Homo sapiens: one gene and its partners. The protein of the gene in region 1 interacts with the protein of each later gene in a pairwise test. Each region holds a gene or a part of one and is shown on either strand. Other genes may lie near its edges. The genes, in order: ASPH, PTN, GSC2 and SGTB.

Evidence for each region.
Region 2: the proteins of ASPH (region 1) and PTN interact in binary tests that used the Homo sapiens proteins (3 or more experiments, as listed by UniProt).
Region 3: the proteins of ASPH (region 1) and GSC2 interact in binary tests that used the Homo sapiens proteins (3 or more experiments, as listed by UniProt).
Region 4: the proteins of ASPH (region 1) and SGTB interact in binary tests that used the Homo sapiens proteins (3 or more experiments, as listed by UniProt).

The regions. Positions count from the first base shown.
Region 1 is NC_000008.11:61,501,568-61,508,602, reverse strand, and holds part of ASPH (aspartyl/asparaginyl beta-hydroxylase), read left to right. Parts: intron 1-5,093; coding exon 5,094-5,244; 3' UTR 5,245-7,035.
Region 2 is NC_000007.14:137,249,725-137,256,759, reverse strand, and holds part of PTN (pleiotrophin isoform 1 precursor), read left to right. Parts: intron 1-1,785; 5' UTR 1,786-1,786; coding exon 1,787-1,901; intron 1,902-3,122; coding exon 3,123-3,296; intron 3,297-5,368; coding exon 5,369-5,530; intron 5,531-7,035.
Region 3 is NC_000022.11:19,147,277-19,154,370, reverse strand, and holds the start of GSC2 (homeobox protein goosecoid-2), read left to right. Parts: upstream 1-4,078; 5' UTR 4,079-4,087; coding exon 4,088-4,346; intron 4,347-4,454; coding exon 4,455-4,708; intron 4,709-5,275; coding exon 5,276-5,380; 3' UTR 5,381-7,094. UniProt on the Homo sapiens protein: May have a role in development. May regulate its own transcription. May bind the bicoid consensus sequence TAATCC.
Region 4 is NC_000005.10:65,665,428-65,670,144, reverse strand, and holds the end of SGTB (small glutamine-rich tetratricopeptide repeat-containing protein beta), read left to right. Parts: 3' UTR 1-4,217; downstream 4,218-4,717. UniProt on the Homo sapiens protein: Co-chaperone that binds directly to HSC70 and HSP70 and regulates their ATPase activity.

The DNA of each region.
Region 1 (7,035 bases):
AGCAAAGATAGCTAAGATATTATCTATAAAATTTGTAGGTAGAAGACTCTATAAGCACCTAGTATCATTACTTAGCCTTATTAATATCAATGGTAATTCTGTGACCAAATTATAGTTATTAAATATGCACTGCCACCATTTTATCATTATCATTATTTATAATTATAATAATTTGAGAAGTTGACAGATTATGGAATACTGTTTTATCTTAGGACGAGATATTCTTATATCTTTTGACAACCCAGAGAGAGACTTTCTTCTCTTAGTGGTAAGAAATTCTAACAGAAGGCCAGGAACAGTGGCTCACACCTGTAATCCCAACTCTTTGAGAGGCCAAAGCAGGAGAATTGTTTGAGCCCAGGAGTTGGAGAGCAGCCTGGGCAACATGGGGAAACCCCATCTCTACAAAAAAATCCAAAAATTAGCTGGATGTGGTGGCACATACCTGTAGTCCTAGGTACTCGGGAGACTGAGGTGGGAGGATCACCTGAGCCTGGGAGGCGGAGGCTGCATTGAGCTGTGATGGTGCCACCACACTCCAGCCTGGGTGACAGAGCAAATCCTGTCTTGAAAAAAATAAAGGGTTAGGTGGGAGGAGAGAAAGAGAGAGAGGAAGGGAAGGAGGAAGTTCCAACAGTGAGCCAAGCTTCCAGGGATGGAGAGCAGTGCCCACCCCCAATGCTGCTTCTCTGGGTCCTTAGACAAGGCTGTAACAGTACTTCCAGGCAGACCTCTGTCACAGGCCGCTCTGAAGATTGTTTCTCCAAAGGGCTGATTGTATGTCGTAATTCGAGTGTAACTTAATCTTATTTGATGGAGCTTTGTTCACAAAGCAAGTGGCCTGAAAACTAGTTCTTTGCATTCTAATGAGAGTCTTTGGTTTTCAGTCAGAAGCGATTTGACATCTTTATGCTCCTCTCCCTTTGTTGTGGAAAAAAAACATCCTTTCCCAAGCATGTGATACATCTCGAATTTAACCTGGAGTCACTTAAGTCTGGACATGGCTTGTAGGATGTTTTATTGTTCTTCATTTTCCCCTTTTAGGTGAATCGTGACTACAGTTTTAGTCATTCTATCTCTAATAACTGATTGAAAGACACCATTTTTTTAAGAATTCAGAAGAAATCTACATTAAAAAATCTACATTATGTTATTGACTATCTTTGCTATTTTCTGGGGAAATGTATGAAAGAAAGTGGAAGGGCAAATAAGTCCGACAGCACTCACTTTCCCCATAGAGTTTTATGACCCTGAAACAGGCCAATTAACAACCCTTTGGTATACCTCCCCAAATTTCTTATTTATACAATTGGTTAATTAATGGTTTACACTGATCTGTATTGTACTTAATGTATCTGGAAAGCTGCAAGCCTGTGGTTCTTAAGTTCTACTTTTATATGCACTGATGTTCCATGAGTGACCAGCGTGTTCCGGTGCTAATAACTTTTCCCAGTTCTCAGGAATTTAATTTAATGAATGGAATGCTTAAGGCCTTTTTCCCAGAAAACAATTCTAGATCTTTGGCTTTGTTATACGTATCATAATCTAGTGAAAAATGTCATTTTGTGTGGGCTAGAATTTTCTATTCAGTTATTTTAATTACTTCTAGTGTTTTAAGTAGTTTCCAGGTTCTCTGCCACCCAAAAAACTTTGAAAATCACTTGTCATTGCTGTACAAACTACATTTCACAGATGCTCTGAAGATGTTTTTATATCTCATCTCCCTTGGAAGTTTTTAGTTGTCTCAAAGGAAGGCAGACAACATCATAAAGAGTGATGCATATGTCATTTTTGATAACATACCACTTCCCAACATTTCACCTCTGTCTTTTATCTTTTCCCTATTTTTCTTTATATTTTCATTTTTCTGTCATTAATTGAATATCTACTATTGCCAATCATATGCTAATCCTCACATCAATTATGCCGATGAAGACACAAAGAATCAATTATGCTAAGTAGCTCACCTTAGGTCCCATAAGTAATAAATGCCAAGGTCAAGAGGATTCCCCTCAAAGACCATAAATTTCCATCTTCCTGTATTGCTTCTTTCTTTCTCCTCTACCACATGCTCTCCTTTGCCTTTCCCTTTTTTCTCTATTTAATTGTAGTAAAATACACATAACAAAATTTACCATATTATCCATTTTTAGGTGTGCAGTTTAGTGACATTAAGTACATCCATATTGTATAACCATCAACATGATCTATCCTCAAAACTCTTTCTAACTTGCAAAACTGAAACTATACCCATTAAATAACTCCCATTCCCGTCCTCCCACCGGCCACTGGCAACCACTCTTCTCCTTTCTCTCTCTGTGAATTTAACTACTAGTCTAGGACCTCAGATGTGTAGAATCAACTAGTAATTATCTTTTTGTGTCTGGCTTATTTTACTTGACATAATGTCCTCTGAGTTCATACATGTTGTAGCATGTGTCAAAATTTCCTTCCTTTTTAAGGCTGAATTAATATTCCATTGTATGTGTATACCACATTTTGTTTGTCTGTTCATTCACTGATAGATACGTGGGTGGCTCTCACCTTCTAGCTGTTGTGAATAGTGCTGCTGTGAACATAGGTGCACTGCCTTTCATTTTGAGTACACTTCCTCCCTCATCTTCTACATAAATTATAGGCTCGTTTGTGGTACCCACTGACATTGCTTAATCCCGGTGACAACACTGAGACCTAGAAAATGCCTGCCTAACTGTGGAAGCTGTGGACTGTTTCACTGATTTTTCTTGTCAGCGTATTTCCCCGCCTTGGTTTTGCCTTTCTTCTCAAGTTAGATTTTGCATGGTAATGAATGCATATTCTGTCATTTTCTCCTAAGTCCATAGATTTCTGTCTTTTGCTACCCTTGATGGAACTCCAATGGAACTCTAAAAACCTTCAGAGGAGTTGTAGAAGAGCCAATCAACATGTGTGTGTTGAATGCAAGAGATGAGGCAAGGTGTATTAGTCCGTTTTCATGCAGCTGATAAAGACATACCTGAGACTGAGAAGAAAAAGAAGTTTAATTGCACTTACAGTTCCACATGGCTGGGGAGGACTCAGAATCATGGTGGGAGGCAAAAGGCACTTCTTTTTTTTTTTTTTTTTTTTTGAGATGGAGTCTTGCTCTGTCACTCAGTCTGGAGCACAGTGGCATGATCTCAGCTCACTGCAACCTCTGCCTCCCAGGTTCAAGCAATTTCCTGCCTCAGCCTCCTGAGTAGCTGGGATTACAGGCATGCGCTACCACGCCTGGCTAATTTTTGTATTTTTAGTGGAGATGGGGGTTTCACCATGTTGGCCAGGCTGGCCTCGAACCCCTGACCTTGTGATCCACTGTCCTCAGCCTCCCAAAGTGCTGAGATTACAGGCGTGAGCCACCGCATCCAGCTGAAAGGCACTTCTTACCTGGTGGCGGCAAGAGAAAATAAGGAAGATGCAAAAGCGGGAACCCCTGATGAAACCATCAGATCTCATGATACTTATTCACTATGATGAGGACAGTATGGGGGAAGCTGCCCCCATGATTCAAATTATCTCTCATCGGGTCCTTCCCACAGCATGTGGGAATTATGGGAGTACAATTCAAGATGAGATTTGGGTGGGGACACATCCAAACCATATCACGAAGTGTATGAGATAGCACACTGGGTGGAGGTGGGAGGGTGGGTAGTAGAAGTAGAGGTTCAGTTCCCAACTTCAGTGAACTTTCAACTTGCAAATACTCAGTACTTTATCTGTTAGTTTACATAACTTGGAAATTTTATTATCAGACTTATTCAGTATGTCAGTTATTTTCCACTGGAATGATTTTTGCTCCTGCTCCCACCCTGGACATTTGGCAATGACTAGAGATGTTTCTGGTTGTCACAACTATGGCAAAAACTACAATTACTTTTGCACCAACCTCATGGTATAGGGAATGCTACTGCCATACAGTGGGTGGAGGTCAGGGGTGCCGCTAAATATCTCATAGTGCATGGAACAGCCCCTACAACAGAGAATGATCCAGCCTAGATGTCAGTAGTACCACGGTTGTGAAGCCCTGCAATATATGTAGTATTGCTCAGTTTATATTAGTTAATCACCTGATATGGAACATAAAAATTCACCACTAGTTTTCGCACAGAAAACCTCTTTATGATAATATAGTAACTTGAAATCAAGCTAGCATTTCCCATGCTATAATAGTCATTATTTGCTAATCCAGGATGTAAAATTTTGAAGGCTTAAGTGGCATTTTAGTATCTAAGGAAAATTTTCTAGCAAAAATTTTATTTTAAAAACATAACTTGGTATTTAATATATTGGCAGTTAATATCTATTTTTAAAATAAGGAACCATCAGTGTCCCTCATAAACTCTCTTTGGATTTGAAAAGCATTGTGTTACTGCCTCCTGTATGTTTCTCTCTTAATAGACTAACACTATATTTAGATCGCAGTCCCTATACAGATATCTTATGAGGTAAAGTTGGAAGCTCTATAGGGTGTTTTGCAGCATTGATTTAAAATATCCCATGGATAACCCACTTGCATAGAAGATGATACTAAAAATATAAACAAAATTTATTCCCAATCTGCCCATTTTCTTCAGCTGGAATACTAGCTAGGAAACTCCTAATTTAGTTTTCTGCTTTATGGTACTGTGTTTAAGCAGATTCCTTTCTTCCATAAAATGAAACTTGAACAAGTGGAGTGAGCTGAAAAGACAATTGATTGGAAGTGTCTTGAGAGGCATAGAGATGCCTGAGACCCAGTCACTGCCCATATGTCTAAACCAGAATAATTGCAAGACATGTAATAATATACAGAATAATTGCAAGGCATGTAATGAGACCAATATGTCTTCATCACAAATCCTCTGTTGTTTGTACATCTCCAGCACTGAGCAATGAAAACTGATGTTCATAGCAAGATTTCTGAAATTCTTTCCTAATCATCAAGGGAAGAATAAACTTGGGCTTGATGTTCTAGTTATTTGGTTATGTCCCAAAGGTTGTTACCAAAGGTAGTTCTCGCACATGGACAGGAATCGATCCTCAGACATCTGAACCACACAAAACTATATTCAGGAATCCTTGTCTTTCTGCTGCAGGACCTGGGAGGAAGGCAAGGTGCTCATCTTTGATGACTCCTTTGAGCACGAGGTATGGCAGGATGCCTCATCTTTCCGGCTGATATTCATCGTGGATGTGTGGCATCCGGAACTGACACCACAGCAGAGACGCAGCCTTCCAGCAATTTAGCATGAATTCATGCAAGCTTGGGAAACTCTGGAGAGAGGCTGCCTTTCTGGTTCCATCTCCTTGGGTGTGAGGATAGAATTTCGAACACCAAGAGTCAATTCCCTTGACTTGCAGCCCGAGTAATTCAAAGCCTCCTCCTAGGGTCAGAAGACACTAAAGGGAATATTTGCCTCGCTGCAATTCATTTAGGAAACACCCTGCTGTGTGTCATCTCATGACAGCACTGGTCTTCTGCCAGTATTTAAGGTGAACATTTGATAGCTTCTACCTTACCAGCCAAAGATATTTTTTCCACATAGAATAGGTCTAATTCAATGTATAATGAGAACATATGTAGAAACTGTGAATGGATTGCTTTAGTTTGTAATTTTTCTATGCAGTTATATTTTTCTAGTGTAGCTAGACTATTTTGTCATCATGTACCACTACATTTTTGTTTATTTTAATGACAAGCTGTATAAATGCTTTACTTCTAGCTATTTAATGGTAGCATTACTGGGGAACTCAGACTTCCCTCTTTTAATTCTTCTTAGTAAAAGATACTCATGAAAAAAGCAGTTTTATTTTCCTAACAAAAAAGAAAGAGCTCATTATGTCAGTGTCTATGAACTGTACCCATCCCAACTCTCAAATCGTTTGGTTTTTTTTATCTTGATTGAGATCCTCTTCTCACTATGCTAGTGGTGGAGATATTGACAAAATCCTATTTCTTTCAAAGAGGAACTTTTCACACCGAAAAAAGAGCATGGAATTATTTTATATTGTTATAAAAATCCCAGATGCAAATTTTTTTAATGCCAATTATTAGAGCTTCTGGGGAAAAAGTATAGTTCACGGAAATAAAACTATGTTCTTTCAGGGTTGGGTGGATAGGTGGCTGCTAGGGTGTCTGGCTCCTGGCGGCTTTGCCATCCATGAGGCAAGGGCTGGGAACACAGTGTCTTTGCCTATGGTAGATCCATGTGAATGTCAGGAAGCCAGCTCTTCAGTCTTGGAGATGATTTCTGCTACAATTCTGTAGAAAGATTAAGGATGGCAGAGTAAAAGGTTACCAAGAATGCCAGGATGTTTTTCTTGGGCGTAGGAGGTCCAGATTACTTTCCTTTTTGATGAAAGAGTTTGGAAGACTGTCCCATCTCTCTGGCTTGAGAAATCTCTGCCATTTTAAACATCACTGTGAAATAGCAATTATTATCATCTGTATTTAGTTTTAACATTACCCACAACATAGAAATAATAGGTAAAAATCGTCTTGCCTACTCATTCCAAAGATGATCAAGTCATTAATCTAGCAAAGTATTCATGTATCAGATTTTGTATATTTTGAATCAAAGCTAACTAGGAATGTTAGATATAAGAATGTAATGATATTCATGCACTGAATTCTAAGCCAATATGAACAAAAATGCTGCATGAATGGCACATATAGGTCACCAAAGTTCATTCACAGGTAGAAAAAACTTGTGCTTTCTTTTCCATCTAAAAACAAAAGGAGACTTTCTTTATCTCATTTAAAGAACAGCTCTTTGAAATTGAAATTGACCCTTTTTGCTTGACCTTAAGGAGATTAGCTTCCAGTAGATGAGTTTGCAAAATACTTTTCCTGTTCTTTTGTTTTGCTGGTATTGAAAACATCCCACTAAATCAGATGAAGAGGCATGGGAGGAAAAATATCCAAATTAATTACTAAAATCGAGAAGAGAAGGCAAACTCTTGAAAAGTAAAAAGGTGTTTGTGACCTTCAGTATTTATTGAACAGAGGAAATAACTGACAAGGGCAATACAATTCAA
Region 2 (7,035 bases), on another chromosome or scaffold:
CAACCATTGTGGAAAACGGTGTGGTGATTCCTTGAGGATCTAGAACCAGAAATACCATTTGATCCAGCCATCCCATTACTGAGTATATACCCAAAGGAATATGAATTATTTTAATATAAAGACACAGGCACACATAGGTTTATTGCAGCACTATTACATAGCAAAGCCATTGAACCAACCCAAAAGCTTATCAATGATAGACTGGATAAAGAAAATTTGGTACATATATACAATGGAATACTAGGCAACCATAACAAGGAATGAGATCATGTCCTTTGCAGGGACATGAGTGAAGCTGGAGGCCATCATCCACAGCAAACTAACACAGGAACAGGAAACCAAACACCGCATGTTCTCACTCATAACTGGGAGTTGAACATTGAGAAGACATGGACACAGGGAGGGGAACATCACACACCAGGACCTGTTGAGGGGTGTGGGGTAAGGGGAGGGAACTTAGAGGACCAGTCAATAAGTGCAGCAAACCATCATGGCACATGTATACCTGTGTAACAAACCTGCACATTCTGCACATGTATCTTGGAACTTAAAGTAAAATTAAAAATAAATAAATTTAAAAAAACACTAATAAGAGACAGCATATACAATGCCACAGAAAAGGAGAAAAATTCACGGGCAAGGATATCATCTCAGATATTTTTCAATGAGGAAAATAAATTAGAGAAAAGAATAATCTCAACCCCTTATATACATGAAACGTTTTATTGTTCACACTAAAGAGAATGTTGAAACACCTAAACTAATCTAGTACTACCTCTGGAAAAAAAATTATCAGCCTATGATCATAGGACATTACAACCATTTTTATGTGAAGTATAACACACCACTAACACAGCAGATGGAGCTCAATAACTGCCAGGCAAGTTGCTGCAGCCATGATATGGTGTAGCCATTGGGAAGTGGGTCGTCCTGGAGCTTGGACTGAAACTTTCTCAAGGGTGTTTTGGCCAAGTGACCATATTGACACTAGGCTGTCACAGGTGGCTTCAAGTTCTAGGAGAGTCTTTCTAATGATATCTTGGGATTTTTGATTCACATCAAATGTGAGCATTTCCTATTATGAGTGAGTGTAAAGACTTCACCATATCCTAAGATTAGAGGATTTTTAGCACATGCGAATTTATCATTGTGTTTGATATGTATCACAGGTGTGCTAGCTCTACTTCTGGGATTCACTCTTTGTTAGATCAATAAATAATGGAATAATAAGATGATAGTGATGATTATGACAATGATTTTAAAAAGATCAGAGATGTTGGTTGTTGTGTATGCGTCTAAATAGAAACAGTAAACATATACTTGTATAGGTAATTCATTCATCATGTCTACTCAAATTGGTCTTGTGTACAGCAGTATCATTGCTGTGGTTGTTTCTAATATTGTCAGGAATTTTGAAGATGGCTGTAGTTGTCGATATTACCAAGTGATGCTATCAGCAAGACAGTAGGACTGTGTTCAAATGCATGCCTTCAAAGTTCTTTTGCTTCCATAATTTCTGAGTCATACTTAGCAAATGGTTGTGAAGTCTTAAGTGAAGAACTGTTGCGTTTTGTCAGTGAATACGTGATTGATTGCAGAAGAGCACTTATTTCAATGGCTGTTGGTAAGAATAGATAAAATTCTACCCAAGATAATTGATATGAATCTTCCTGAAATCTAACATTCCAGAAATGGAAAGTGGAGCCTTTTCATCAAGGGTTCAATGAATCTTCCTTTCTGACTTAGGTTAATGCCACCTTCTTCTCTTTCTCTGTTTATTCCTAGAATGCAGGCTCAACAGTACCAGCAGCAGCGTCGAAAATTTGCAGCTGCCTTCTTGGCATTCATTTTCATACTGGCAGCTGTGGATACTGCTGAAGCAGGGAAGAAAGAGAAACCAGGTAAGCAGTAGGGTTCTGAAGGCAAGATGCTTCATTGATTAATGTCCATCTAGTCTAATTACCTGCTTTTCCTTCCTCTCTTCTACTCTGCCTCTCTCCCTTCCTATTCCTCTATTCCTTCAATCTTCCCTTTTCAAAAATAATTACTTAGAGGAACCTAAGAAATATCCTGTCTTATTTTTCTCCCATTGTAAGTCTTGGATTGCATGACGATGATGATCATTAATATAATGATCAAATTAGCAGCTACTATGTATAGAACATTGACCGGTAATCAGGTGCTTTATTATTTACCTCTCTACCTCAAAAAAAAAAAAATGCACTGCAACTTGTTTTTCTCCTTAATTTCAGATTTACAGAGGAGGAAACAAGCACAGAGAAGATAAAGCACCTTCTCTATGCCACTCCCAAAGTCATAAGTAGGCTGTGGAACTGACAGTCTGTTTAAATCTGTGATGCACCATATTTGTATGATGTCATTCCTTCTACAAGGCAGAGAAAGGAACAACAACTTACACTGAAATGGCTCATTTGACAACTGTTATTTCTTTTTTTTTTTTTTTGAGTTGGAGTCTCGCTCTGTCACCAGGTTGGAGTGCAGTGGTGCGATCTCAACTCACTGTATCCTCTGTCTCCCGGTTCAAGTGATTCTCCTGCCTCAGCTTCCCGAGTAGCTGGGGCTGCAGGCATGCACCACCACGCCCAGCTAATTTTTGTATTTTTAGTAGAGTTGGGGTTTCACCATGTTAGCCAGGATGGTCTCGATCTTTTGACCTTGTGATCTGCCTGCTTCGACCTCCCAAAGTGCTGGGATTACAGGCATGAGCCACTTTGCCCAGCTGACAACTGTTATTTCTAATAGAATATTTTCTTCATTTTTAGGAGAACTATATTTTTGACCATCTCTTCTTTTATAGAAATGTTTGCTTCTAAAAGGAGATGCCACTAAATCACTTAGCACAGTCTCTGGCACATAGTAAGAGGGAGTTCAATTAATATTAGTTTTAGCTCTTTTCTCAGTTTTCTTTCTCTCTTCTCTTGATCATTCATTGGTTCAATAATTTGGTTAATATTCATCATGTTTCTACTATTCATTAGACAATAAGGATACAGATTAAAAAACACAGATCCTGCAATTAAGGTGCTCAGGAATGAACTTGGTTATATCTGGAAGTTAAGGAGTTTTCTGTATGTTGATTAGGTTTTCCTCCTTTCATTCAGAAAAAAAAGTGAAGAAGTCTGACTGTGGAGAATGGCAGTGGAGTGTGTGTGTGCCCACCAGTGGAGACTGTGGGCTGGGCACACGGGAGGGCACTCGGACTGGAGCTGAGTGCAAGCAAACCATGAAGACCCAGAGATGTAAGATCCCCTGCAACTGGAAGAAGCAATTTGGCGGTAAGCCTCATGCTACTGAGTTAATCTCCTACTCTGAGATAATTCTCAAATTTTTCCACCAAATGTCTTTTTAAGGATAAGTACTTTTTATTTTAAATAACTTTATCTTACCAGACACAAAGTGACCAGACTGGTCCCATTTCAGGCCAGGCAATTATTTGTTGTGGAGGCTGTCTTGTGCATTTTAGGGTATTTAGGAGCATCGCTGGCTTCTACTCGCTAGTTTCCGGTAGCATTCCTCACCCGCTCCAGATGTGAAAACTAAAAATGTCTCCAAATATCTATGGCCAAATGTACCCTGTTGGTCAAAATCATCCCTGGTTGGGAACCACTGCCTTTCCAAAGGGACATAAAATATATCCTTGATTCCTCTGAATAATGTTAATTGATCTGTCTTCTCTCTCCTTTCTTCTATTTCTAAGTTCCTTTGATTTTTCCTTTCCCCTTTTCTTATTTATTCTCCTGCTTCTCCATGTTTCTCCCTGTCACTTTCAGACCTTCTCTCCCATTTGATCCCTCCCCAACCTCCACACAGTTTCACAGATTCACTTACTGAGTTCAGCAGGGCTGCTCACAGCCACGTTTCATAAATCTTTCTCCCACTGACTGGAGTCAGTCTTATGCTGGCCTGATCTATCTATCTGAGACAGGATCTCTCAACACTTTCAACTTTATATCCAGTATTGAACCCTCAAATAACCTCTTCCACAATCCAGACTTTTTGTCTTTCTTAGCCATAGTGGGACATGATGCCTGAAATGTCCTATCTGTGTTCTATGGAAATGCATTGTGGCCCATAGACAAGTGAGGAAGGATAATGGATGTATACATGTATGTCTTTTTCTCCCTCTGTAATCTTTGGGGTATTTTTTATTTGAATGGATATAGACAAGTTCTATAAAAGTGTGATGGAGAACAGGTACATTTGGTCTTAAATTGTATATGGGCACCTTAAAAACCCACTTACAAAAAGTTTAAAAGGTATATCTTAAAGACTTACATTGAGAATATTAAATAACTCTCAAACTCAACAGTAAACAACAAAACAACAACAACAAAAAACAAAACAAACAAAACCTAACAGTTCAATAAGAAAGTGGGGAAAAAACATTAACAGACATTTTACCAAAGAGGATATATAGGCAACAAATGAACTCCTGAAAATATATTCAGCATCTTTTCCTTATTAGGGAACTAGAAATTGAAACCATAATGAGATATCACTCTACATCTATCAAAGTGGCTAGAATAAAAAATAGTGACAAGACGAAATGCTAGTGAGGGTGCCAAGAAACCAGATCCCTCATATGTTGCCAGTGGAAATTGTAAGGTGGTACAGCCACAGTGGAAAAAGAGTATTGCAGTTTTTTACGAAATGAAACATGCATTTACCATGTAACACAGCAGTTTCTTGGTAATTTATCTCAGAGAAATGAAAACTGATGTTTCCACAAAAACCTATACATGAATTTATATAGCAGTTCTATTTGTAGTAACCCAAGGCTGGTAACAACTCGGATGTCCTTCAGCTGATGAATGGTTAAACAAACTGGGGTACATTGGGACCATGGAATACTACTCAGCAATAGGAAGAAACAGACTATTGATGCACATGACTTGGATGGATCTTCAGGAAATTATGCTAAATAAAAAAGCCAATCTCAGAAGTTTACATATTGTAGAATTCCATTTATGCAACATTTTTAAGCTAGAAAAATGATAGAGCTAGAGAACAGATAAGGAGTTGCCGGGGATTAAGGAGGTGGGGAAGGAGGAAGGTGGCTAGGCCATGACTATAAAGAATGACCCACTGTTGTATTGGGACTGTATATTAATAGTGTATATTAGTGTGTATTAATGGTGTATATTGATGGTGATCGTATGCATCTACACATGTGATAGAATTGAACAGAAATCAATACACACGCATACACTCTGTATTATTTCTTATAGCTGCATATGGATCTATAATTATTTCAATAAAAAAGTTACAAACAAAAGTGTGCCTTTATTATCCTGGAAGTACGATAGGATCTTTCAAGGATTTCTGTTTGGTTCTACCCTGCCTTTAGCGGAGTGCAAATACCAGTTCCAGGCCTGGGGAGAATGTGACCTGAACACAGCCCTGAAGACCAGAACTGGAAGTCTGAAGCGAGCCCTGCACAATGCCGAATGCCAGAAGACTGTCACCATCTCCAAGCCCTGTGGCAAACTGACCAAGCCCAAACCTCAAGGTAAGTCCTTGCCATTATACCACAATTTTAATGGATTGATGGACTCAGGTAAGATCTGGAAAACCCACATTTTCCAGAAGGAAATATTAGGTGAATTACCTTAAGAAAGTGACTGAAAAACTCCCCTACACTGAGAGTCACAAAAATACTTTAAAAATACTTTGAAGCAGGCAGCCTGTGAGTGCAAATTGAAGTCCTCTGCATAGATGAGGGGATTGGTACAGTCTCCTAACCCAAATAAATAACATAGCAAAAGAAACCAGCAAAGACAGTTGTATGATGACCATATATTCCACACTCTTAATTGGAACTGTATCCTGACAAGAAAAACAAACTCAGAATGTTTATGACGGAGACAATTTTAAATCAAACTTCTCCCAGATTATCTGAAATATAGTTTTCACAAAATCAGGAAAATTATTTTACATTTTCCCTTTATTCACTGCATAACTTAATGGGTTCTGCATTTGTTTTCAGAGCCTTTATATTTTTTGAGTTCAATTTGGTTACCAACTACATTCATCACAGAATTTTTAAATGACAGAGATCTGTATCTCCCAGAAAGTCAGGCTCTGCTCTCTTGCTGGAGAAGGTAAAAACAATCATTATGGCCATGAATTCATACATACAAGGATCCCAACTGAGGGAAATAAACTCTTTCATCATGGATGTTATTGTCTGAATTGTGTTTTCCCAAATTCATATGCTGAAGTTTTAACCCCCTCACAATGTCACTGTATTGGAGACAGGGTCTTTAAAGAGGTAATTGAGATAAAATGCAGTCACAAGGGTAGGCCCTAATCCAGTGCAGCTGGTGTGTTTATAAGAAGGGAGATTAGGACACAGAAATACATAGAGAGAAGACTGTGTGAAGACAGAGGGAGAAGAATGCCATCTACAAGCCATAGGGAGAACCTTCAGAAGAAATCAGCCCTACAGATGCCTTGATCTTAGGCTTGTAGCTTCCAGAACTGCAAGACAATAAATAAATAAATTTCTGTTGTTTAAGCCACCAACTCTGTGGTACTTTGTTATAGGAGCTATAGCCAACTAATACAATGGGACTCAATGAACTCTAAATTCAAATACCTTCTTGGCCTCTACTCATATATTTTAACTCTAAGGTGGTCCTGAAAATTCATACTGCCAGAGAAATTGTAAGGAGAGATTCAGAAAAATGACCATGTAAGAAATGCTCATAATAAATAAAAGTAGAAAAAAAAAATCTGCAGAAGGTGATGGAGATTGGCTGGTTTCCTGCTGGTGGCCAGAAAGGACTTTATTTTTCACAGGCCTGGCTTTTTGGCCACTGCTGGAGTTGTCCATAGAAATAGTTATCTCCAACTTCAGGATGGCCAGGTACAGGCTGGACCTGCAGGTGGTGAGTCTAGGGTTCAGGCTGCCCTTTCCAGATCATGGAAATCTCTGCCTGTTGTCATATGGTTTTTGGAAGGCATGAAGCAGGGCTGGAGTGACTGCAGTGAGTACTTATGCAGACTTCCCAA
Region 3 (7,094 bases), on another chromosome or scaffold:
TGGTGGCACACACCTGTAATCCCAGCTACTCGGGAGGCTGAGGCACGAAAATTGCTTGAACCCAGGAGGCGGAGGTTGCAGTGAGCAGAGATTACACCACTGCACTCCAGCCTGGGCAACAGAGCAAGACTCCATCTTAAAGAAAAAACTTTTCTTTATAGAGATGAGGGTCTTGCTATGTTGCCCAGGCTGGTCTTGAACTCCTGGCCTCAAGTGATTCTCCCACCTCAGCTTCCCAAAGCATTGGGATAACAGGAGTAAGCCTCCATGCCCGGCCCTAAATCTTGCTTTTTGAATCATATCTTCTTTCTTTTTATTATTGGTAGCTAGAAGAAGCCAAGTAGCACCTTGAACTTTCTCTCTGGGTATGTCCTTAGATCATTTTATTCTTGGGAATACTATCTAGCTTCTATTTCCTATTTGGCTACAGGTGACAATGTTGCTAAACTTCCTGCCACTGCATAACAATGGTCTTCTTTCCTCCATCTTCCAGTAACAATTTCTTCACTTTCCTCTAAGTCCCCACTGTCAGCCTCTGCAAGGTCCTCCCAGCTCCTGGACACTGCCCCATCCCAAAGCCAATGTCACATGATTTAGGTTTTGTATCAGCAGCACCCACCCCACTTCCAGTACCAGATCCCGTTCTGCTTATCTATAGTTATATAACAAACCACATCAAACTTGGTGCAGTAAAAACACCCAGCATCATCTATTTTATTATATTTCATAGTCATGGGGCTTGACTGGGCTCAGGGAGGGGATTCTCAGTTTTGGTGTCTCCTGTGGTTGCAGTCCAATGGTGGCCGGGGCCAGAGCCATCTGGAAGGCTTCCTCACTCACTTGTAGGTGACCCGTGCAGGGGGTGGATGGGTCCTTCAGCTGGTGCTGCTGGCAGGAACACGCCTATCCTCTCCCGAGGCTGCCTGTGCCCCTCACAGCATGGTGGCTGGGTGTAAAGATCAAGCATCCCAAGATGTGTGAGAGAGAGAGAAGGAGTTGGGTTGCTGATCTGATCTGTGTGACTCTGTGTGTGACTTGGCCTCAGAAACCACACGATGTCAGTTCTGCTGCATTCTATGGATTACAAGCAAGTCGTGAAGGCCAGCCCATGTTTCAGGAAGAAACCCAATTAAACTCCCAAAGGGAGCAGCATCAGAGAACCTGCCAGCATGTTTCAGAGGCGCCAGAGTGGCCAGGCACGGTGGCTCACACCTGTAACCTCAGAGCTTTGGGAGGCTGAGGCAGGTGGATTGCTTGAGGTCAGAAGTTCTAGACCAGCCTGGGCAACATAGTGAGACCCTATCTATAATTTTTTTTAAATTAGCCAGGCATGGTGGCGTGTGCCTGTGCTCCCAACTACTTGGGAGGCCGAGGTGGGAGAACCTCTTAAGCCCAGGTGTTCAGAGGCTGCAGTGAGCTATGGTCACCCACTGCACTCCAGCCTGGGTGAAAGAGCGAGACCCTGTCTCAAAAGTAAAAAAACAAACAAAAAAGGCCGGGCGTGTAATCCCAGCACTTTGGGAGGCCGAGGCGGGCAGATCACAAGGTCAGGAGATCGAGACCATCCTGGCTAACATGGTGAAACCCCGTCTCTAATAAAAATACAAAAAAAAAAAATAGCTGGGCATGGTGGCAGGCGCCTGTAGTCCCAGCTACTCGGGAGGCTGAGGCAGGAGAATGGCGTGAACCCGGGAGGTGGAGCTTGCAGTGAGCTGAGATCATGCCACTGCACTCCAGCCTGGACGACAGAGCGAGACTCCGTCTCAAAAAAAAAAAAAAAAAAAAAAAAGGGAGGGGGGCAGGCCAGGCAGGCACGGTGGCTCATGCCTGTAATCCCAACACTTTGGGAGGCTAAGGCAGGCGGATTGCTTGAGCTCGGCAGTTTGAGACCAGCCTAGGCAACGTGGCAAAACCCCCCCAAAACAGAAACATTAGCTGAGCATGGTGGTGCACCTGTAGTCCCAGCTACTTGGGAGGCTGAGGCAGGAGGATCACTTGAGCTCAGGATGCCAAGGCTGCAGTGAGCCATGATCACACCACTGCACTCCAGCCTGGGTGACAGAGCAAGACCCTGTCTCAAAAAATAATGCAAAATAGAAAATAAACTTTTTGAAAAAGTGCCACAGTGGGCCATTTACCAAGGTGGACTGGTAAAGAGGCAGGGCACACGCAGAGGCAAATAGGTAGAAGAGAATGAGCACTAGAGATGGACAGGTGGGCAGTGGCCCATTTGTAAAAGTGGAGAACATAGGGTAAGAAAGGGATTTTGAGAAGACCTTGAGTTCCTTTCTGGCATGGTGACTGGGAGAACTTTATTGGTAGTGGAGATGGAGATGTGGAGCAGGCTCCAGAAACAAGAGCGTGGAGCAGAGAGAGAGGCCAGGCTGGAGGTGCACTTGTGAGTCACTGTCACAAAGATGGTGTCTGGAGCTCCAAGGCTGGAATAGGTATTGAGGGTGAGAATGGGAAAGGATGAAGGAATGGCCAGGGCTAGGAGGAAGAGGGCTCAGCAAATGTTGGGCTGGCTCTCCTGACCAATGACCCTGCCTCCCCCATCATAGCAGCACTCTGATTTTGGAGGATGGTCCAGATGCAGTTCTGTGAGGGAGGTCTGCTGAGGGAGGAGGGATCCATGGCCATCCAAAGGGCCATGGGAGGAGATGAAAAGTGTGGGGCTGTGGCAGCCATTCTACCACCAAGAGGTGGGTGGAGGAGGGGTTGACAGAGCCACTCATGGAGGTGGCAGCTCATCACTGAGCCTCCAGACTACCCCTGGGAAACCTATGTGGGAGCTCTTGTGACAGAAATTAAATCAGCAGGTTCGGTCACAGTGATGTCCACAGCACTTTCACTGATAGCAGAGTGGGGATGGCAGAGTCTTGCAGAGGGGCTGGCGGCGGGAGGAGCGCAGGAATACGCATTGCCCTGGGGAGGCGGCCAGGTTCTAACCGTCTCACACCTAGTCACTACACTTTACAGATTGGGAAAGCCAAGCCCAGAGGCTGAAGACGCCTATGGAGGTCACACGGCCAGAAATTGACAACGGAGTATGAGCCAGGCCGTCTGTTTCTCTGTGCTATGAGTCCCATACTGTATTTTCAAAGGTCAAGAGGAAAGGGTCTTAAGCTGAAGTGACGGTCCCGCTGCCAGGAGCCGCTTCACTGAGGGTGAAACAATGTAGCCAAGTGCGGGTCACCTGCGCTGTGGCAGAAGGGACCGAGGACGGTGTGGCCAGAGGACTGGCCTGGGCGGAGAGCGAGGAGGGGGAGCCCACAGCTTCTGGGGGGCAGTGACAGTGCGGGGAAGGGCGAGGTGCAGTGTTGGATGTTTTCGCGGGGATTCTGGGACCAGTGGGAAAGCTGGAGGACAGGCGGCTCTGAAGCACCGAGGAGGGGCCTCGGAAGGGGCGGGGAGGTCTCCTTGACACAGGTGAGGAGACGGAGAACTGGGGGCACCCGGCAGCCCAGGCTTCCTGCCGCGCTCTCACGCCCTCCAGGGCCATGAGACCCTGGCTCCGAGGTGGCGGGCAGGTTCGGGACCCGAGCGCGGCGGGATCGTGCGGTTGCCGGTGGTGCTGGGCCCCATGGAGGCTGCGGTCCAGGAGTTTCGGGTGGGCGGCTAGGCCGAGCTTCTGCAGGCGTGCTGAGCCGCCGCAGTAGGGCCCCAGAGGGGACGAGGAATTAGGCCCAGCCGAACGAGGGGGAGCCACCAGAGGCTGGGCCGGGAGGCACCGCCGCGCTCTGGGGAGCTGCCAGGGTCGGGGCGCCCTCCGAGCGGCTGCCAGGCCCCGCGGGCGGCGGCGAGGCGGCCCTCCGCCCCTTCCCCGCAGGTCGCCCTGCCAGCTTGAGCGGCGGGCGCGGGTGGGGCAGGAGGACGCGGGGCGGGGTGGGGGGCACAGGGGGCCCTCTCTGCAGCGCCCCCGGCCCCCGCGCGCGGAGGCAGGGCCGCCGCAGTCGAGGATTAGCGCGTTCGCGGCCGGCGCTGCGGGATTAACCCGCGTGGACTGGACGCCCGGCCCGGGGATTACTGCGCGCTCCCTCCCCGACGTATATATTCCCGCGGCGGCGGCGCCCCGGCCGGGCCGGGCATGGCGGCAGCGGCTGGGGGCGCGGCGAGCCGCCGGGGTGCCGGGCGGCCCTGCCCCTTCTCCATCGAGCACATCCTCTCCAGCCTGCCCGAGCGGAGCCTCCCGGCCCGGGCCGCCTGCCCACCGCAGCCCGCCGGTCGCCAGAGCCCCGCGAAGCCAGAGGAGCCCGGGGCGCCCGAGGCTGCGCCCTGCGCCTGCTGCTGCTGCTGCGGCCCCCGCGCGGCGCCCTGCGGGCCCCCAGAGGCGGCCGCCGGGCTGGGTGAGTGGGCGCGGAGCGGGGCGCGGGGCCCGGCGGAGCCCGGGGCGCGGCGCAGTGGGTGCCGAGCTTGGCCCCAGCCCCGCGCCTCACCGCGCCCTCGCTCCGCAGGCGCTCGTCTGGCGTGGCCGCTGAGGCTGGGACCGGCGGTGCCCTTGTCTCTGGGTGCGCCAGCCGGAGGTTCCGGGGCGCTCCCGGGCGCGGTCGGCCCGGGTTCGCAGCGGCGCACGAGGCGCCACCGCACCATCTTCAGCGAAGAGCAGCTGCAGGCGCTCGAGGCGCTTTTCGTGCAGAACCAGTATCCTGACGTGAGTACGCGCGAGCGCCTGGCCGGCCGCATCCGCCTTCGCGAGGAGCGCGTGGAGGTGAGTGCCCCGCCCAGCCTTTCCCCGGAGCGCGCGGGCCGCGGCTACACTGGACTGGGGTCCTGGCGGGCGGGCGCCCTTTGCAAAGACGGCCTCGGCCCAAGCCCCGCCCTGGCGCGCCGGAGGGAGGAGGTCCCTGGACGGCGCTGGGCGTCCGGGGGTATGAGGAGCGGGTGAGAGCAGGGAGGTGCCGCGGGAAAGGAACCGGAGGGCTACTTTTCTTTTCTTTTGTTTTACACTTTCCTCTGGTGACGAAAGAGGCCCGCGTTCACGTCCAGAATTTGGGAAATTCAGAAGAGCCCGCAACCCAAGAAGGGGCGTCCTGGTCGCCGCCAGCTGGAGGCTGGGGCGGGTACTAAGGGGGTTCCCATCTCGCGTCCAGACCCACCGAGTCTGTCCGCAGCGAATAAGGGCAGGTGGCGCGCAGCCGCGGCCCGGGTGTCGGCTCTACAGCGCCGTCCGCCCACATCCCTGTTGCGAAGCTCCCCTCTCGGTCCCTGTGGGACCCTCGGGAGCCGGTGGGACGCAGGACCTGGGGCTAGGGCTGAGCATTCCCCCCATCCCCAGGTCTGGTTCAAGAACCGCCGGGCCAAATGGCGACACCAGAAGCGCGCGTCGGCTTCCGCGAGGCTCCTGCCCGGCGTCAAGAAGTCCCCGAAGGGGAGCTGCTGATGACTCTAGGAGCTGCCCCTGGGCTCGGCCACCCTTTTTGGGATCTTTGGAGTTGGCGCTGAGAGAAGACAGGTCTACCCGAAAAGGAGCTGGGAGAGTACACCGGCCGCCTCCACCCGTCTCCACAGCCCTTGCCTCCTGCAGCTCGTGCTGCCGTGGCGCTGGGGACGGGCCCCCGGTGCTTGGTGTTCCACGGCAGTGGGAGTGGCGAGTCCCTTGGGGGTGGGCTGGGGCATAGAGCAGTTTCCTCAGCTCCCTACCCCCCGAGAGACACTAACTCCACCGCAGGAGGGGAACCACCCCGTATCAACACGGGACCCAGAATCCTACGCAGTGGAGCGTCTCTCCGCACCCTGGGACATGCTGGCCACCCTCTTCTCAATGTGGACATTGACCTAACTTGACCTGGCTCGTCCTCCCCCAGCGGGAGAGGGGATGGGGTTCGTGTCTGTGCAGTCCTGGCGTTGCAGGCTTCCCAGGCCCTGGGCTGGGTCTTGGTATCTGGACCTGTAGAATAAGAAGGTCGCAGGAGCGATTCCAGGAGCCCCTCCACAGTCCCTTCACCTTCGAGCCTCGCGCTGATACTGAGAAACTAGCAACTTCAAATACCACAGAAGCCGCCCAGAGTCTCAAGTCCACCTTGGCTCCACTCCCACACCCAACAAGGAGCTGTCCCTTCTTCTTCCTTCCCAGCGAGGGGGTATTTAGGGTACAGCTGTCTTTGAGAGGAGCACAGCTCAGCGATCCTCAGTCTCTGCACCAGGGTGCTCCCCAGCAGAGGGGACTGCTCCACGGATGGTGGCCTTGGACCCCTGGGGTCCAGCCCTGGCCTCTAGGCTACTGTGAACCTGCCCATGGGTGAGGGTCCCCTGCTTCCTCCTGGGGTTTTCATGCTGTGGGCTCGGACTCCCTCACAGCAATCTGTGCCATCCTAGGGTAGGGCAAGAGGAGGTTGGACTGGGGAGACCCCGCCCCTGCTGCCTGGGAAGATGCCTGCCCTCCCCTTCTTTATCCTGGCCCATGGCAAAAGGCACAGTGGAAAGAAGCCTTAGATTCCCCAAGTAGGCCCTACAGTGGGTCCAAAGCATCTCACATCCCCACCCCCAGCTGGCTTGAGCACCTCGTTCTGTCTCCTTACAGGCCCTGCAGGGAATGGGGCCATTCTACCTGCAAGAGATGAAGTCCATCTCTAAAAGCAGGACTGCAGAAGCCAGGGCTGCAGCTCCCCAGACACCCCAAGGCTGGCCAGCTTGGATAACACCAAGCAAGCATGGTGTCCCCAGTCAGAACTGCCCTGACACTGCTGGGTGTCCCTAGCATCCCCGCCTCCACCCCTAGCATGCACACAAAGCCCTTCTCCCTGAACCCTGGTCTTGCCCTTGGGGACTGAACAGACTACCTGTGGACATGCCCGTGTCCCAGTCAGCTCCCTTGCAGCTGGGGACACTCGCATCTCACAGGCTCCAGGCCCCTTGAGTTCCTTGGTTGAATGGCCATCTGTCATTGTTTTGGGAGCCCCGATCAGAGCTTGTGGAGCGCCACCTTCCAGGGCTCAGTGGCTGTGTTGCTCTCCTGAATTTGCTTCTTGAGCTCTAGCTGCTCCTTGGCAGGCTGACCCCCCACAGCAGGCTATTAACATAGGCATCCTTCACGCTCACACCCAGGCGCTCGCTTCTCATCTTCACCCTCTTCCCGGTTTATCTTTTACCCTCAG
Region 4 (4,717 bases), on another chromosome or scaffold:
ATATCTGATGTGTGAAAATAATGGAGGAAAACCTCTTGTGTATATTCTTAAAGAATAAATCTGTTTAGACAATAGGTTTATCACAAACAAACTCAAAACATAACATGACTCCTTTTGAAATGATCACTAGCCATGTTACGTGCCAATATAGCACTGGGATAAGGTTCCATTTTCAAACTTCTATCATATTTGTATATTAGACTTAATAGCAAAGCATATTTATTGAACTCTAGTAGGGCTATTTGTTGGTAAGCTCTTTAGCTCCAATTTCCCTTAAGCAAAGTTTTTTGAGAAGGGAAATGACCCAAAGGAAAGGTTTCCTATGCTGGTTGAGAAGAAGTGTACTTGCCACTGAGCAGTATGTCAGGAAAGAAGGAATATTATCTAGGTTTAGCTTTGATAAGTGCTATTAGTAATGAATATATAACATGGGAACCAATGTTATCTTTAATGTTGCTTGTTCTGGTGAACAGAGAATCTTAAGAGCTGTTAGAAAGTAGCACTTGATGCAAGGGATGTTTTGAAAAGAAAAAATTGGTAATGCGAATGTATAGAAAGTAAAGGTAGGATGCTCAGGTTTTCTGCATAGTTCTTAACTAATCTTGTCTGCAGTTTGGTATTGATAATATTAGCATGGCCACTTATGCTAAATACACAATAAGATACATTTAGAAATCCTTAATGTACTGGTTAGGTCAGTGGTACAACTGTTTGACTTAATTATCACAATTTCCCCAATGGTAACCTTACCTTGGAAACTATCAAATATAAATATACTTTAACTAAGCCAGTGACCTGGTCCTAAGTTAAGGATTTTCTAAATGGTATTTAATTGTGTGCCCATAAACACTGATTTTTTTTAAAAAGAAAACTTAGTAATTATTTGATGGATAACAAAAAGCATCTATCACTAACATTGCTTGTTCATGTAATCTTCTGTGATAATTTGGCTTGGCATGCCAGTCTTATAATTAACATAATTTAAATTTGATGCAATTTAAATATAACAGGAGACTTAAAATATTTTATTATAAATTAGATGCCATATTAGTTAGTGGAGAAAAGGGGCATTAGGTATTAATTGCATGGGTCTAACTACATTGATGATGAGAGTTTAATTCCAACTAGAGTATATTTTTTGTTTATTAATAATGAAATTGGTGCTGACATGTAATGACTTCACAAGTTTTACGAGGGAAAACTGAAAAAGGAAGTAATATAAATTTTGTGGGGTTTTTTTGAGATGGAGTCTTACTCTTTTGCCAGGCTAGAGTGGTGTTGCAATGTCAGCTCACTGCAACCTCCACCTCCTGGATTCAAGTGATTCTCGAGCCTTAAGCTCCCAAGTAGCTGGGATTACGGGCGCCCACCACCACGCCCAGCTAATTTTTTTTTTTTTTTTCTTGAGATGGAGTCTCTCTCTGTCGCCAGGCTGGAGTGCAGTGGCGCAATCGCGGCTCACTGCAACCTCTGCCTCCCGGGTTCAAGTGATTCTCCTGCCTCAGCCTCCTGAGTAGCTGGGATTACAGGCACGTGTCACCATGCCCAGCTAATTTTTGTATTTTTAGTAGAGACGGGGTTTCACCATGTTTGCCAGGATTGTCTCAATCTCTTGACCTCGTGATCCGCCTGCCTTGGCCTCCCAAATGCTGGGATTACAGGCGTGAGCCACCGTGCCTGGCCGCTAATTTTTGTTTTTAATGGAGAGAGTTCCACCGTATCGGCCAGGCTGGTCTCGAACTCCTGACCTCAAGTGATCTGCCCATCTTGGCCCCTCAAAGTGCTGGGATTAGAGGTGTGAGCCACTGTGCCTGGCCAGGAAGTAATATACAATTAAATGAGTAATAATGCAGATGATTAGGCCTTATAGAACCCTTATCAAAAGACTAATTGGCCGGGCGCTGTGGCTCATGCCTGTAATCCCAGCACTTTGGGAGGCCAAGGCAGGGGGGATCACCTGAGGTCAGGAGTTTGAGACCAGCCTGGCCAACATGGTGAAACCCACCTCTACTGAAAATACAAAAATTAGCCTGGCTTGGTGGCGGGCACCCGTAGTCCCAGCTACTTGGGAGGCTGAAGCATGAGAATTGCTCGAACCTGAGAGGCAGAGGTTGCAGTGAGCCAAGATTGCGCCACTGCACTCCAGCCTGGGTGACAGAGCAAGACTCCATTTCAAAAAAAAAAAAAAAAAGAAAAAGAGACTAAGAGACTAATTATTTTGTATCTTGAAGTTTAAAATCCAACTTTTCTCTTTCTCCTTTGTGACATTAGAACAGTAGTTCTATAACTTCATTGTAAGAATCACCTGGATAATTCATTAAAGATGCAGATTCAGGGCCACGTGTTCAATTCTGATACAGTAGGTCCTGTAATAAGGCCTAGGAATGGCCATTTTTAAACAGTACACTAGGTGGTTTTGATACAGATCCAAGGACTCTAATTTAGAGGAACACTAGGTTAGAGGTTTCTCAGACCTGCAAACACCTAAGCACCTGGGCCAAACAAAGCTACAACGAAGATCTGTATGAAGATATATAGTTCTGCAGAATTTAAAAAGAGCACAATTTAAGTCTTCGGCCCTCAGAAGTTAAATTCATATTCCATCTAAGCCAACTTTGATTTTCATTAAGTTAGAATGAACTCCTAGTATTCCAGTATTACACAGAACGAAGTACTACTACTAACACATAGAAGTCATTACTGTGATATAAAAAGCAAAATAGATCCTTAATTAAAAATTAGTCACTCATATTCAGTGTTGAATAAGAAGTTAAAGTTTCTAGCATAACTATCTTGAGTGCATTAAAAATGCTTTTAGAGCAATAAGATAAGCTTCTAGCTGACTGCCTAGAAAAACAGAAGATACAAATTCAGTGTCAGAAATGAAAGGGAATACACTACAGACACTATAGTTATTAAAAGGCTAACTAGAAAACACCATGACCAACTCAAGGATTGTATATTTAACAACTTAGATGAAACAGATTCCCTATAGGATACAAACTAGAAAGCTCACTGTAGAAACAGATAACCTAAACAGAACCATATTTATTAAGGAAATTGAGTTTGTGGTTAAGTTAAAAACCTTCCAGTAAAGAAAACTACAGGCCCAGATAACTTCCGTGATGAATTTTACCAAACACTTAAGGGAGAAATAATATCAATTCTAAACAATCTCTTCCAGGAAACAGAAGAGGAGGAAATACTTCCCAACTCATTTTATTTGACCAGTATTACCCAGACAAAGATACTATAAGAAAAAAAACTTTAAAACAATGTCTTCATGTGCTAACATCTGTAGTTAAATTAGCCATTCTTTTTACATGAAATAATGGGAATTGGTATATTTCTTCCATTTCATTTTTCTATTTCTTTGCTAATATACCACCTGTAACAAATTCAATCTAGATGCTATCTGTCCACTTGCCTACATTTCCATTCTATTCAAGCCATTTTTGCTCTTCAAGTACCTTGATCACTTTGGAATCATAGCATTGCAAGCTATTTCAAAAAAAGTTGCGTGGTTGGATTGTGCTAGCTACTTTTAAATTTATAAAAAATGCCCCATATATTTTCTTGCTTGTCTGGGAAATATAGTTGCTATCTAACTAGAAAAATAAGAGGGCATTATTAAAGTAACTCTTTAAGCATCGTACTAAATGTTTGACTTCCATTAACCATATTTCTTGTAGTAGCTGTAGCTATTATGATACTGTGTAAAACAGAACAGGTTCTATATATGCAAATGACATTTTCATTTAATGTACCAAATTGTGTATCTAACTTTTATAATATAGGTTAAACAGATCCTTTCTAAGATGGCATTATTTAATCTTTACTTAAAACTATGAAAAATATGTGTAAGTTATTGTTTATAAACAGAAGAGACTATAATTAAAATATAGAGCAGATTCCAAGTGACCATCATTTTACTTTTTAGATTTAAAACAGAATGAAACAGAAGATTTAGTCATAAGAAGATGCTTGAAAAACAATCCAAGTATCCAATGCAGTGGCTATAAAATATTATTTCATCATTTAATCTTAATCATTTTGAAACAAAGACAGACTTCAATTTTACACTGCTTGCACTTTATTTTGTACAGACATTTCATTAATTATTACTCAATTTTGAGGTGCAAACCTTCTGAATATAGCTTTCATTTTGGACCAAACAATTTGTTATGGCAATAAATAATGATGCATTGAAAAACCAATTTTTGTATTTGATTTAATGCACTCTTACATTTAAGAAATTATATATACATTCTTGAATTTCAACTTACCAAAATAGAATAGCTTTTATTTAACAGCCTAAGCTTTTGTTTTCCTGACAAATACTGAAACTTTTTGTTACATTAATGCTGCAAAGTTGTTTATCACCTCAACTTTCTCACTGCTTTGCTCATAACTAAGTGTGATTACATGGAGAGAGAAAGTTTTGTAACAGTAACACATGATTTAGAGTTTAAAATCATATCAGAAGATGGGAATTATTTAAATATACCTTATAAAAATAAGTGGCTTAATCAATGAGAAAAAAACCCAGGGGTTTTTGGCTTATAATTAGAAAATAAGTATTATTCTTAGTTAATAGTTAATTAAAAAAAATCAACAACCTAAAAAGTAAAACCAATTCTGATGTGTTCAGTAGCTGAAAGATATGTATGTTTGTAGGTATAATATACAAATACAGACACAAACCATTACAGTAATT